Linked DNA regions of Homo sapiens. The protein of the gene in region 2 purifies or fractionates together with the protein of the main gene of each other region. This does not show direct contact. Each region holds a gene or a part of one and is shown on either strand. Other genes may lie near its edges.

Evidence for each region. The genes of interacting proteins can lie anywhere in the genome.
Region 1: the proteins of COLEC10 (region 2) and COLGALT2 purify together in Homo sapiens (affinity purification with mass spectrometry; 3 studies listed by BioGRID and IntAct, with this or other methods). This does not show direct contact.

What each region holds. Positions count from the first base shown.
Region 1 is NC_000001.11:183,971,702-183,978,728, forward strand, and holds part of COLGALT2 (procollagen galactosyltransferase 2), read right to left. Parts: intron 6,820-7,027; coding exon 6,709-6,819; intron 3,514-6,708; coding exon 3,396-3,513; intron 2,050-3,395; coding exon 1,915-2,049; intron 1-1,914. UniProt on the Homo sapiens protein: Beta-galactosyltransferase that transfers beta-galactose to hydroxylysine residues of collagen.
Region 2 is NC_000008.11:119,062,813-119,070,256, forward strand, and holds the start of COLEC10 (collectin-10 isoform 1 precursor), read left to right. Parts: upstream 1-4,434; 5' UTR 4,435-4,469; coding exon 4,470-4,617; intron 4,618-4,861; exon of another isoform or gene 4,862-5,970; intron 5,971-7,444. UniProt on the Homo sapiens protein: Lectin that binds to various sugars: galactose > mannose = fucose > N-acetylglucosamine > N-acetylgalactosamine. Acts as a chemoattractant, probably involved in the regulation of cell migration.

The DNA of each region.
Region 1 (7,027 bases), on a different chromosome or scaffold from region 2:
TTCATCCAGTGGTGTACTGGACCACACATTGTTAAATTTTCAGAAAGTTTGCAAACCAGTTGACATGTTGATAGCTTGGAATCCATAAAAACAAAAATCACGTTAATCCCCACCACTCTAATGACACCTCATGTGGCAGTTTTACATGTTTTTAATAGCTGTATCATCAAGTGGCTATACTGCAGTTTACTTAACCTTTCCCTTAGCTTAACAACATTTAAGCTGTTTGCATGGTGGGAGTATTTAAACCATAAAAATTGGCAATGCTACCAACTAGGGTTTTTCCCACAAAGAGCCAGTTATTAAACATTTATCAGCACACTACTGACCTTATTTCTCATCCAAAACAAAACCAAATATAAAGGGGAGACTCAAACTTTAGCCCTTTGGCCATGAGAATACATTGAACATACTCCCTCTTTTTTTGAGACAGGGTCTCAGTTGCTTAGGCTGCAGTGCAGTGGTGTGATCATAGCTCACTGCAGCCTCAACTTCTTGGGCTCAAGCAATACTCCCTGCTCAGCCTCCCGAATAGATGGAACTATAGGTGTGCACGACACCACAACTGGTTAATTTTTTGATTTGTTGTAGAGATGTGGTTTCGCCATGTTGCTCATGTTGGTCTCAAACTCCTGGGTTCAAGTAATTGTCCTACCTCAGCTTCCCAAAGTGTTGAAATTACAGGCATGAGACACTGCTCCTGGCCAACATATTTTGCTTAGCACATTTTTATCCTACATTGATACATATTACATTAATCAGTTGAATTTATCTAATTCTTTAATTAAAGAATAAAAAATATAACCAGCCATGAGCATTCACTAAAACAGACCACTATTTTGAAGATTTTACTATGAAAAAAAGAAATAATAAAAAATCAAACCTTTTTTAACTTGAATTTTATAAAAATAACCTACCATGGTAGTTTTCATTATTAGAACTCTTTGGAAATAAATTTGGCAACATACATCGAAGGTCATTGAAATATTTGTACTTTTTTTTTTTTTTTCTTTTTTGAGAGGGAGTCTCGCTCTGTCACCCAGGCTGGAGCGCAGTGGCGCGACCTCGGCTCACTGCAAGCTCCGCCTCCCAAGTTCACGCCATTCTCCTGCCTCAGCCTTCCGAGTAGCTGGGACTATAGGCGCCCAACACCACGCCTGGCTAATTTTTTATATTTTTAGTAGAGATGAGGTTTCACCATGTTAGCCAGGATGGTCTCAATCTCCTGACCTTGTAATCCGCCCGCCTTGGCCTCCCAAAGTGCTGGGATCACAGGTGTGAGCCACCGCGCCTGGCATATTTGTACTGTTTGACTCAGTAATTCCACTTCTAAAAAGCTATCCTAAGGATATAATCTTAAATGCTGAAAAATTATATTAATCATGACGGTCACGATAGTTAAAAAGTTGTGAATAATTTAAATGTTTTTCAAACCGAGATAAAGGTTAAGTAAATTGGAACATAGCCACTTGATGATAACACAGTTACTAAAAACGTGCAAGTTTCTATCTATGATGTTGTTACGGTGATGGGGATTTAACATCTGTCTTGTTGGTTTTCTTTTAAACTTTTTTTAATTTCTAAGTTTTTCTATAGTGTTCTTATGTTAGTTTTGTAAGGACAAAAAGAATTAATTAAAAATAGTAATTCCTGAATCAGGAATTGGCTAATTTGACGTTTCTAAGGCTAAGCTCTTTAGACTATTTTTTTCATAATAAATTAACACAGAAGAGCCCAACTGGGTGTAGCATTGGACCCAGATTTACTGCCCTTCCTAAAAAATGCTTGCTCTGGGAACACAATGACACGCATGTTTCAAGGGAGTAAACAAGAGAAAGGTGAATGGGACTACTGTTGACCGGGTGTTGCCTTGTTAAAACTAGTAGCCTTAATTCATTTAAGCAAAAGACTTGCCTTAGGGGTGATTCCGCACCAGAAATTAGAATACAGGCCCCGAGACTCCAGCATGGGGGCCACAATAGTTTTGTTTTCTGCAATCAGTAGATTGAGGGTCTGTGGATTAGTCAGGAAATTGTCAACATCTATGAACTAGGAAAAGAAAAGGATAATGTTAGGTGAAAAGGTACTTTTCAGTAATGAGTTTGAGAATAACCCAGCCCTTCTGAAGGATCCCAGAAACTTGCTCATGACATATGGAACCAGCTATCTATGTCCTCCTTATTGAAACCCATTGCAGCTAGGTGGCTTTCATTCAGTCAAAATATATTTAGTCTAACTTTCGTATGTTGGGCTCTGCATAAGGCACTAAGCAGTAAATTGGTGCTGCCATACTGGGCATAGCCTCAACCAGGAACCAACCTACACTTTGGCTAGTGTTTTAGGCACAAGATATTAATGGCTCCCAAGCCATTAAAGGTTCATTCAAAAACACTTATTGGCTGCCCAGTCTAGGTACAGATGGGCATGCCTACTTAGCTTTTCTATAGTAATGCCAGAGTAGCTCAAAACAGATCTATCAATGAATTTTAATGTGACAAGTAGAATTTTTGTTTAAGTACATTATATCAACCCATGCTAACCAGTGAAGCTATTTCCTATTCTTAGAAGTCCATGTTAACAGTGATTTATTTAGAGACAGTATAACAACAGATTCTAATTTATAAAAGAAATAATCATACTGAACTATACACTGAAAAAGGGATAAACTGACAGATTTTACCTTTTGTAGGTTTTATCACAATAAAAAATTCAGAAGTCTTCATTTTTATGATAGTCCATCTGTTTACCCCAAATTTTGTGATTTAACATTTGTACACTTCAATGGCATTTAAACAGCTACACAATGTTAAATATTGTCAGTACAATTTGAAAACTTCTATGAAAGGATTTGTGTCACAAGTGTGCGTGATACATTTTTGGGCAGATTTTCACTGTGGTTGAGGGGATGGGGATGGACATAAATTCTCCAAAGAGAGCATCACTGTGCCAAGCAACAGATGCTACTCCCCAGATCATTCAGGAGCAAAAGGGAACCATTTCAGAGCTGTTCAGCTGAATCACTTTTTTAGATAATTACTTTTTCATATCCCCCAAATTCTTCCAAAAAGTTGTAAGAACAACTTACATTGCTTTACCTACAGCCTTTCCTGTGAGCTAAAAATATGCAGAGTTCTTATGCCTGTTGCATGGCAGAGACCAAATAATTCAGGCACTTCTTCACTTACCCACTGAAAATGCATGTGGGCCTGAAGATGAAGTCCAGGTAGCCCAATTTTAAACTACCAAAAATTTCATTGTGCCTTTCTTAAAAAGTGGGGGAGGCACTGCCTAATCAAAAAGGTTGTTTTGATTGCTTCCATGGTTCTAGTTTTTGGACGACTGATTTGGATACACCTGAGATGACAGTTGTCAAGAAATCAAACATCTGTTTTTACCAGAATGTAGTCTGACCATTTTTCCCTCGCAGTTCGAAGGGCTGCCTGTCGTAGTTTCATCACATGGGCAAACCGGGAGGTTGGCCAGTGCTTTGGTCCAATTTCATCAGGGTAAGACCTAAAATAATAATAATAGCTCATCATTATTGAGTGCCTACATGTACCAGGCTCTGTCCTAAATGTTTATATGTATTCATTTAATCTTCTATCAATCCCAGGAAGTAGATACTATTATTATTGTTATCATCATCCCCATATTACAGATGAGGAAACCGGAGCAATGAGAAGTCAAGTAACTCACTGCTCATTGTATACAAGAATCTTTACATGAAATATTTCAGTGGGTTCTAATGAGAGCCCTTTGAGGTGAGTACTGCTATTCTCTGCATTTCACAGGTGAGGATATCAGGGTAGAGCAGTTAAGTCATTCGTCCAATGTTACACAATGGGGCACAATCAAGATTTGAATCCAAGCAAAAAGCTCATGTTCCTAGACAATTTTTATACATCCCGACATCGAATAGATTTGGAGAGTATGCAGTGTAAAACATGAGTTTCCCAGGAAAATCAAAGGTTTAATCTACTTGTTGGAGTCTCCACAAATGATTCCACACAGCCTAACACATTGATCTATCTTAGGTAAAGTGAGGTCGTGGGATCTCTATCAAGATTCACAAAACAGCCAGGCCAAGACTCCTTCATGGCCACATAGGCAAGTGGGTTGGAGCACGCTCCAAAACCCTTCTGAAGGCACCCAGCTGGCACGGACATTGATACTGTTGCAGTAACCCAAAACTGGCCACCACTTCAAGATCTCATAGCTGCACTGGCAGTACATTTGTTTTAGTGAGTGAAAAACTGCAAAAACAATGAGACTGTAACTAAACAAATAAGGTTAATAAAACTATGTACAGCACAGGAATTCTCTGGAATATCTTCCCCAGTTATTGTTTCAATGAAAATCAGTGGAATTCTCATTTTTCTAAATATATTCCCCCCAAAAATGCCTGTTCTAATATTTTTTCACACTGACCTTGGCATATAATATATTTAGTCAAAACCTGGCTGCAGAGAACATTACCAAGGTGCAAAGAAGGGACACAAAGTATTTCTGTGCCATTTTTGTTAGGCCAAACTCCATTATAAGGCACTCTAAAGGAGTGTTTACAATCTTTTACGGTGTTCAGACTTCACTGTTAAATTTTGCTTGATATACAGTCCATGGGCTTGGATTTGAGAAACACATATGTATATATTATATCATATTTATATATATTTCTTTATAATATAAATATTTATAATAATTCTTACATATAGAAAGACTAGAAGAACAGAAACTTGTTCTGGAATGGCATTTATTATTACTATAATACAAATTTGGCTTTCAATAAATGACTTCTCTGGGGAAGAAATTCAGGCAACTCCTTCATTCTATTTCTACAGTTCCTTAAAGTAAAACTGTAGTAGCTTTGGGAACATTTATAATAGTAAGTTTTAAATACATTTATTCTTGTTCTTATTTGTTCATCCAACCAGTATTAATTTAGTGCCTGCCAAGAACATGGCTCTGAGGGGAGAGGGGGAATATAAAGTGTTTATATATTCTAGCCCCTGCCAAAGAACTTACAACTTATTTAGAAAAAAAATACATTAATTGCATAGGGGGAAAATGTTGGTTGCGTATATCATTGTGCCAAAAAGGATGACATAGAATATAAGCAATACAATTGTTGAGACAAAGGTAGATATTTATAACTGAGTGATTAAGAATAGGTTTCTATAGTAGGCATGATTTAGGATAAGAATTAGTTATAAAGAAGGAAAGGGTCTTCCAGGACCTGCACAAGCAACAGTGTGGGGTTTGGAAATAAAAGAAACGTTCTGGATAAAGCACATTTTCTTTTGGTGCTAAATTCATGGAATTTTAAAAATATAAGTCTTAGGTGTTTGAACTTTGTTCAGGTCCTAAAGAGTAAGTGAAGTATTTTTAATAAAGAAATGAAACCATTTCATTTGTATTTGAGGTAGATTGATTTGACTGTATGGTATGTAGGATGACTTGGAGATAGAAGCAATTAATAAATTGCTATGGTGGCCGGGCACGGTGGCTCACACCTGTAATCTCAGCACTTTGGGAGGTCAAGGCGGGCAGATCACAGGGTCAGGAGATCGAGACCATCCTGGCTAACATAGTGAAATCCCCTCTCTACTCAAAATACAAAAAAATAGCTGGGTGTGGTGGCACACACCTGTAGTCCCAGCTACTCGGGAGGCTGAGGCAGGAGAATTGCTTGAACCCAGGAGGCGGAGGTTGCAGTGAGCCAAGATTGCACCACTGCACTCCAGCCTGGGTGACATAGCAAGACTCTGTCTCAAAAAAAAAAAAAAAGAAAGAAATTGTTATGGTAACCAGGCACAAAGGCTCACACCTGTAATCCCAGCACTTTGGAAGGCCAAGGTGGGAGGATCGCTTGAGGCCAGGAGTTCAAGACCAGCCTGGACAACATGGTGAGATCATGTCTCTACAAAAAATAAAAATAAAATTAGCCAGGCATAGTGGTGCATGGCTGTGGTCTTAGCTACTCAGGAGGTTGAGTGAGGAGTATTGCCTGAACCCAGGAGTACGAGGTTACAGTGGAGCTATGGTCATGCCACTGTACTCCAGCTGGGGTGACAGAGTGAGACCCTGTCTTGAAAGAAAGAAGGAAAGAGAGAAAGAGAGAGAGAGAGAGAGAGAGAAAGAAGAGAAGAGAAGCGAAGAAAAGAAAAGAAAGAAAAGAAGGAAAAGAAAGAAAGAAGGAATTTCTATGGTTAAGATAGGAAATTACCTAAATGAGCATCAGTAGGGGATCAATTAAATAATTATGGTAAATGCACATACAACAGTGATTATGCAGTAAAAAAAATGAAAATTAGCTCCTTAACTATTGCTATAGAATGATTATCAAGATAAAAGTTGAAAAAAGCAAGCTCTATGTAGAAAGTATACACATTTTCAATATGATCCTCCAAATATAAAAGTTTGTTTAAAATATGAATAAATAATATCAATATTTAAAAATATAAACTGTCATGGCAATTTATTTATGAAGTAATGAAAATCTGAACTTGGCTGGCAGCTGTGGGAGTAAACAGCAAGAGAGTACTGTGAAGATCTCTAAAAGGGAGAAATGGCAGATATTCAGAACTCACATAGCTACAGAAATGAAAGACAATGAAAAGTCACATGTACCTCCAAACCTGGAAGCCCTAAAGAGCTAGTTAAAGAGGAAGGGTAAATAATGAGTTTACAAATTTCGCACTTGCTACTCACTCTGGTTCATCCATAGGCCTCCACTCCACATAGTGATAGAGTCTCTGTACATTTTTCAACCACTCCCTGAATATTTCTGTTGTATTATCCACATTGTGATCAGTGGCTGCCCTGCATGAGAGAAAGCACAATATAGTTTAACTATGTCATCCAATGAAAGAGAGGGAAATCCAAAAGACCCCTGACTAACTGAAAGAAGAATGGCTACTCCTGGAAAAAAAATTGTATATATGAAAATAATTCCCTCATAGTCCAAACTAGACAATAAATTTCCAAAGTGAGAGACACTGCTTAAAATCATCTTTGTGTCATTAGATCC
Region 2 (7,444 bases):
TTTGAAATGTAAAAAAGAAATTATTATGTGTTTGCATGTTACTTTCTAAATGCATTATTTTAAAAGTCATTCTACTAATTTTCATTTTTTACAAACTGTATAAAGTTAAATTAACTCACAAGAGAGGACTTTAATCCACTAATTACTTATTTGAATGGACAAAGCTGAAACCAAGTCCAAAGTTGAGTTATATCAATTTGTCAAGAAATCCCTTCTGGAGATGAGGTTGTCATTGTACTGTTATGCTGTTTTAACTAGTAAAATACTTCTGCCTTAGGATATGCTTTTTTCGTATCCTGGAATTTATTTTCCTTCCAGGAAAATATCAGGAAGCTGGAGGCATGATCATTAAAATGCACAAGAACAGATGTTGCTGGGTCTCTGTCAGGCACTGAGCAAATGTTTTGATGTGTCATTTCTTCCAGTTACTGTGGATGAAGAGCACAAGAATGGTGTGTTAGTTTCTTAGGGCTGCCATAACAAGTTACCCCAAACTTGGTGCCTTAATACAACGGACCTTTATTATCTCATACTTCTCAAGGCCACAAGTACAAAATCAAGCTGTAGGTAGTAGAGAACTCTGCTCTGCAGGCTGTAGGGGAGAAGCACTCCTTGCCTTTGACAGTTTATGGTGGCTGCAAGCCCATTCTTTAGTTTCTTGTTGCGTAACTCTCATTTCTGCCTCAGTCTTCACCTGGCCTTCTCCTTTCATCTCTGTCTCCCTCCTTTGGGTGTCTCTTCTAAGGACACTTGTCACTGGATTTAGGGTCCACCCAGATAATCTAGGATGATCTCATCTTGAGACTCTTAGCTTAATTATGTTTGCAAAGACCCTTTTGTCACGTAAGGTCATGTTCACAAGTTCCTGGGTTAGATGTGGATATATATATATATTTTTTAAGGCCACAATTCAATTCACAAAAAAAAAAAAGAAAAGAGTAGAGGAATAACGAGGCAAATATCACTTGTTATTTACTTTAATGACATGTCATATTTGGACAAACACAAAGCTAAGCCTGGAATTCCAATATCTTGGGAAATGAAAGATAAAAGCAGTCAGAAAAAAGTAGAACTATGAAGACAGTTTTATAAACTAGCTACTAATTCTTTTCTTTTTAGATTTACCATTAATCTCTTCCACTATTATGCCATCTGTAAACTTGATTGGCTTGTTGTCTATTTTAAAACCACGTTTTAAGGCAAAAACAGTGTTGGCTTGTTGTTCTCAGTGACTTCATTTTCTGAATAAACAAGACTGAACCCTTTTAAATGTCAGTAGAAACCTTTCTGGGAAGCACTATTTTTTTGCACACTAAAGACAATATACTTAACATAATTTAACCACTTTATGTATTCAATCATCTTTCCCATTTTAAAATTAAATAATGTTTTATATAAAATATGTGAATTCTCTGTAGCAATTTAAATTTTGATGTAGTATAGTACACATTATATAGGAATGTATTTATATGCTTTATTGAGTAAAAAAAGGAGGGGGGCAGAATATGCCAAGAAAATTTTTTAAGGACTATTGTTTGTTTGAAATGGTTACCAGTTAATTTCTATATATAAATGCAATGATTCTATTCTTATTGTATGCCAGGAAATGTTTGAAAATAAACAAATAGTGAAGTAGACTTAGGGTAGTCTAAACAATTTAAAGAGTATCAATTTTCTTAGAATCATAGAATTTAGAAACAATGTTAAATATGAAGTCCAAACTCATTTTACATGCCTAGTGGCAATTGACATTATGTGATTTGCTCTATGTCACATATCTGGCTATGACACATGTAAAATGTTAGGTTTCTAACATCATTCAATTCTCAGTATTTTTCTATCACTGTTAACCTGACAAATGCATCCACTTTGGACATTTTAAGTGTTTGTGAAAAATTAATGCATCCTCAATGCTTGAGAATGTTCATCTTTATGGAAACCAAATAGTATTTTAAAAGCAGGATTTTGGGAAATAATTTGTATTTGATTTTTTTTTTTTGGTCACTTTTTCAATGGATGACCTTACTCAAACTGCTTAATTTCTTTGAGCCTCAGCTACTTTGTTTGCAAAATGAAAGGACTACTATCTAATCCACAGGACTATTTTGAGACTAAATGAGATAAACGCAAGTTGAGACTAGCTCTCAGCCTGTATATAATGACTATTCAATCAGTGCTAGTTTCCTTCCCTGTACTGCTTATGAAAAAATCAGTCAGTTATACTATAGGCCTGTTGTGATGTATTCAATTGTGTTCCTCCCACCTCAAAATTCATGTGTTGAAGTTCTGATCCCCAATACCTCAAAGCAAATTTCTGCTGTTTAAGCCAGGGGTCCCCAGTCCCCAGGCCACGAACTGGTATCGGTTTGTGGCCTGTTAGGAGCACGGCTGTACAGCAGGAGGTGTGCGGTGGGTGAGCCTGCGAAGTTTCATCTCTATTTACAGCTGCCCCCACATCAGTCACATTACTGCCTTAGTTCCCACCTCCTGTCAGATCAGCAGCGGCATTAGATTCTCATAGGAGCACAAACCCTATTGTGAATTGTGCATGTGGGGATTTAGGTTGCCTGATATTTAGGAGAATCTAATGCCTGATGATCTGCCACTGTCTCCCATCATCCCCAGATGGGAGCATCTAGTTGTAGTAAAACAAGCTCAGGTCTCCCACTGATTCTACATTATAGTGAGTTGTATAATTATTTCATTATATAATACAATGTAAATAATAAAAATAAAGTGTACAATAAATGTAATGTGCTTGAGGCCAGGCATGGTGGCTCACACCTGCGATCCCAGCACTTATGGAGGCCAAGGTGGATGGATCATTTGAGATCAAGAGTTGGAGACCAGCCTGGCCAACCTGGTGAAACCCCAACCATACTAAAAATACAAAAAATTAGCCAGGTGCAGTGGTGTACACCTGTAATCTCAGCTACTCAGGAGGCTGAGGCACGAGAATCGCTTGAACCTGGGAGGCAGAGGTTGCAGTGAGCCCAGATCATGCGACTGTACTCCAGCCTGGGCAACAGCGAGACTCCATCTCAAAAAAAAAAAAGAAAAAAGAAAAGAAAAAGAAAAAGTAATGTGCCTGCCTGAATCATCCTGAAAGTATTTCCCCATCTTCCCCATAGAAAAATTGTCTTCCACCAAACTGGTCCCTGGTGCCAAAAGGGTTGGCACTGGTTTTAGCCACCCGGCCGCTGGTGTAAGCCACTCAGTTTGTGGTGCTTTGTTATGGCAGCCCTAGGAAACTAATGCACCTGTATTTCTTGGATTGATGGTTACTTGTAACGACATCTCTTAGGGATATTTTTTCAGCAGTCAGTCTGTATCAGGATCTGTAAGGTCCTTCTTTTCCAATTTCAAGGAAAGCAGGTCCAAAATCCCTTTCACCTAACTCTTAGTTGAGATGCTGTTCAAGAATGGAGAAGGTAAGGGGCCTCTCCAATATATGTGATTCTGGTTCCAATCTTCCAATATCTTACTATGCCCATACTATTTGTACAGGTTATAGGTTTGTGGAATAGATAGAGATCCTGATCTCTGTATCTATATCTGTATCTGATCTACATACTCTACATCTAAATCTGTTGAGCTTTTTATGAAACATAATACCACAAGCTTTTCCCCCTTATTTTGTAAAAGACTTGCTGAAAACACCATTTTAATAAAATTGTCATGTCATACACTCTCATATATTTTACCGTAATTTGCCCACTGTTAACACGTTGTTAGGCAATTGAAGGCCTTTCGCCTTTCTGCCACATCCCTTCAAATGAAGCTTTGCCCACATTTCAGAATATTTCCTTGAGATAGTGTACCAGAAAGGCTAAAAGCTATAAACTAGGCCAAAGGTAATAAACATTTTAATATTCCTAATACTTATCACCAAGTTGCTTCACAGAAAAGCTGGTTGTTCTTTCCTTTTGAATTTAATCACAAGAGAATAATCTTGGTAGCAAGAGTAAGAAGGTCATGGAGGGCATTGGAAGCATTAGTGTTCAACAGGCACAAGCAGGTAATAAATATCACCTTATGAAAAGCTCAAAGCCATGCACGGTGTTTGCATAACATGTTGCTAACTGAAGACCTCTCTGGTTCACAACCTTTCTGAAACTCAGCGTTTAAATGCAATATAGCCTATTAAATTGTCAGCTCAAGTACTCAGCAGAAGGCATCTCTATCTTCTTTGTTCTTGGGGATGTTTCTACTGACATGCACACTGGAGTTCAGAGATAATTTTCAATAAACTGTTGTCACTTGAAAATAAACAGTCTGGACAATGTATGGTCCATTTGGAGCACTGAGAAAATAAACAACCTAGGGTATGCTTCCTTCCTGTCTCTGTAGCCCTTTTTGGAATGTGTGTTCCAAATACTTCCCCTTCTTCCCCAAAGCAGGAGGTTTTATTTAAAATAAAGCTGTTTATTTGGCATTTCTGGGAGACCCTTTTCTGAGGAACCACAGCAATGAATGGCTTTGCATCCTTGCTTCGAAGAAACCAATTTATCCTCCTGGTACTATTTCTTTTGCAAATTCAGAGTCTGGGTCTGGATATTGATAGCCGTCCTACCGCTGAAGTCTGTGCCACACACACAATTTCACCAGGACCCAAAGGTGAGGAAAGAAAACCACAATTTTCATGTATAATAAATATGATATCTTCCCTCATCTCTGAACCCCTTCCTAGATTTCAATGACTTTCTCTTCTCTCCTCCCTAGTTTCCTCCCATTTTCCTTCTATTTTGGAAAATCAGGATTTTCCAGATCTGGTCTGTTACTTATTTAAAGCTCTCCTTTGATGTTAGGTAAGAGGATGTTGGGAAGGGGAAACCCAGGACGGAGATCTGAGGGAACTTACCCAGGGCAGGGGGAAATTCCCTGTTCCATTCTGCTCCGGGGCAGATGCACAATCCAGGCATGAGTCTCCAGAAGCCCTTTCCTTCCTTAAAAGCACCTCTATTATTGCACTGTTTGTACTCTCCTCCTTTCTAATACTGATGCTGGTAAAGCTGTTTAAGCAAAAGGTCAGTAACATAAAACTTAAATCTTAAATATATATTTCATAAGTTAATGGGATCCTGAGTTCCAACGTAGAGGATGGAAACATTTTGTCAAGCATTGAAGGTAGTATATAAATGAACATTTCTTTATTTGGAAGTGTAGTCTCTGGGGCCAAATGCCTTCTGCTCAAGGATGGTAGAATATTGCAAAATGTTCTCAAGTACAGCCAAGGTCCAAATATGCTTTAAGCAACCAGTAGATTTTAAAAAATCTATTTTTCTGGTTTTAGCTTTCACCCTTTTGTTCTGAAAGTGGTCACTGCACTGCAGATTGGTGCTCCCTTATTAGTAATTCATGCTGTTTCTCCAGGCTATAGGGTAGAAGAATTGCAGCTGCCTAAAATTTTAAGTAGAAAAAAGTGTTTTTCCAAAAAACAAAATTCAGAAATACATTGCCCCATGCCTGTCAGTTATTTAAATGTGTATTGCTTAAAGTGCATTTTTCTTAATCACTGAATTAATTTTCCTCTAAGATTGCAATCCAAGTTTTAACCTTTGATACGATAAAATAAATGCTGTGAGGAACAATGAGAGCTTAGAGCTTCCAAATAATTTCTTGGGTGAATAAATGAATAATGCGAGGGCAAATGTTCAGAAAGAAAGTTTTGATTAGAAATAAAGTATTTGCTTAAAACCGTTACTGAAGTTTCCTTAGAGTATAGGAAACTTTAGATTATTCCTGGGGTGTCATGGGGGCATTGAAAATTAAAGTTTTCCTTGTCCCTGCAAATGGGAGAATCCATTTGAGAATAGCACTATTTTTTACCTAATAGAAAACTTCTCCCTTCCCATTTTCCCATTAGAAACCCTGTTAAAACTTCAAACAGTGGAAATCTCATTAACTTTCCTCCTGAGCATCTGCAGACATTATGAGATAATTACAAGCCAGAGTGTGACAAAATGAAGTGAGTGATCCTGGGGAGAGGGACTTGGGAAGCGGTGTTCTAGAACCGTGGGTTCTAGAACTAAGTCTGTTATGTTCTTGGGTGTGATTTCCTCTTCTTCATCCAGAGCCTGGAAACTGTATCACATGGACTCCAAATTTTATTTTTAATAAAATTTTATTCTTAATAAAATTCTTAATAAAATAAATTCTTAATAAAATTTAATAAATTTTGTTCTTAATAAAGAAATCCATGATCCTGGAATGTACTGAATACCTACTAAGATCCAGGCATCATGTTAGATGCTAGGGGTTGGAAGCTAAGATAAGTAACCTGTCCTAGCTCTCGCATCTACATACCAAGCTTTGTATTCTATTACAAACTCTTGAGGCCGGCACCAATTTATGCTTTTTCTTTGAAAATTTCCTACACACCTAAATGCACCTAAAGCAACATGAGTATATTCATCACTGCCTTTCCTGTGCTCTAGGCACCATGCTAGATGATATGGGTACACCAGAAACCAAGACATGATACCTTCTCTTAAGATATGAACAGTGGGCCAGGTGTGTTGCCTGCAATCCTAACACTTTGGGAGGCCAAGGCAGGTGGATCACTTGAGTCCAAGAGTTTGAGACCAGCCTGGGTGACATAAAGAGACCCCATCTCTACAAAAAATTAAAATAATTTTTTAAAAATTAGCCAGGTGTGGTGGTGCACACCTGTAGTCCCAGTTACTTGGACGTCTGAGGCAGGAGAATTGCTTAAGTCCAGACAGTTGAGCCTGCATGGGCCATGATCATGCCACTTCACTCCAGCCTGGACAACAGAGTGAGACCCCATCTCAAAAAAAAAAAAAAAAAAAAAAAAATATATATATATATATATATATATATATATATGTAAACTGCCATCTACTCTACCTTGTTCCTTCATGAATACTGTGACAACCCCTCCCCACTCCAAAATAAGGCAGATATGTATATTTACCTCTACAAAATTAAAAAGAATAGTATGATGGTTAAGTAAGTGTTTTAAAGGTCTGCGTTATTACTGTTTTTTCAATATTTTTCCCCTAAGATCAAGCTAGTCTTAATACTTTTCTTCATGGCTAATCATCTCATTACTGTATTTACTAGCACTGCAGCACAGTGCTCAGAAGTTTCTAGATACTCTGGGAAACAGTGAAATGAATTTTCCCTAAATTCATCTGGGAGAGTGAAAACTAAATGAATTATTTAGAATTGCAGAATGGCATTTGTGAAAACCCAGTAATGCTAACCAGTCATAGAATATATTGACCAATATACAGATATTATTTTTAAAGTCTTATTTCCCAGACATGGTTTAGTGGAAAGAAAGGCACTGGAGTCAATCTGATTATCTTCAGCATGTTGTTACATCTGTTACACTTCAGTGTCTTCATTTGCAAAATGAGCCTTCATCACAGACCTCTTTTAAGAATTATGATAACCAATGTGAACTTTAAGCTGTACA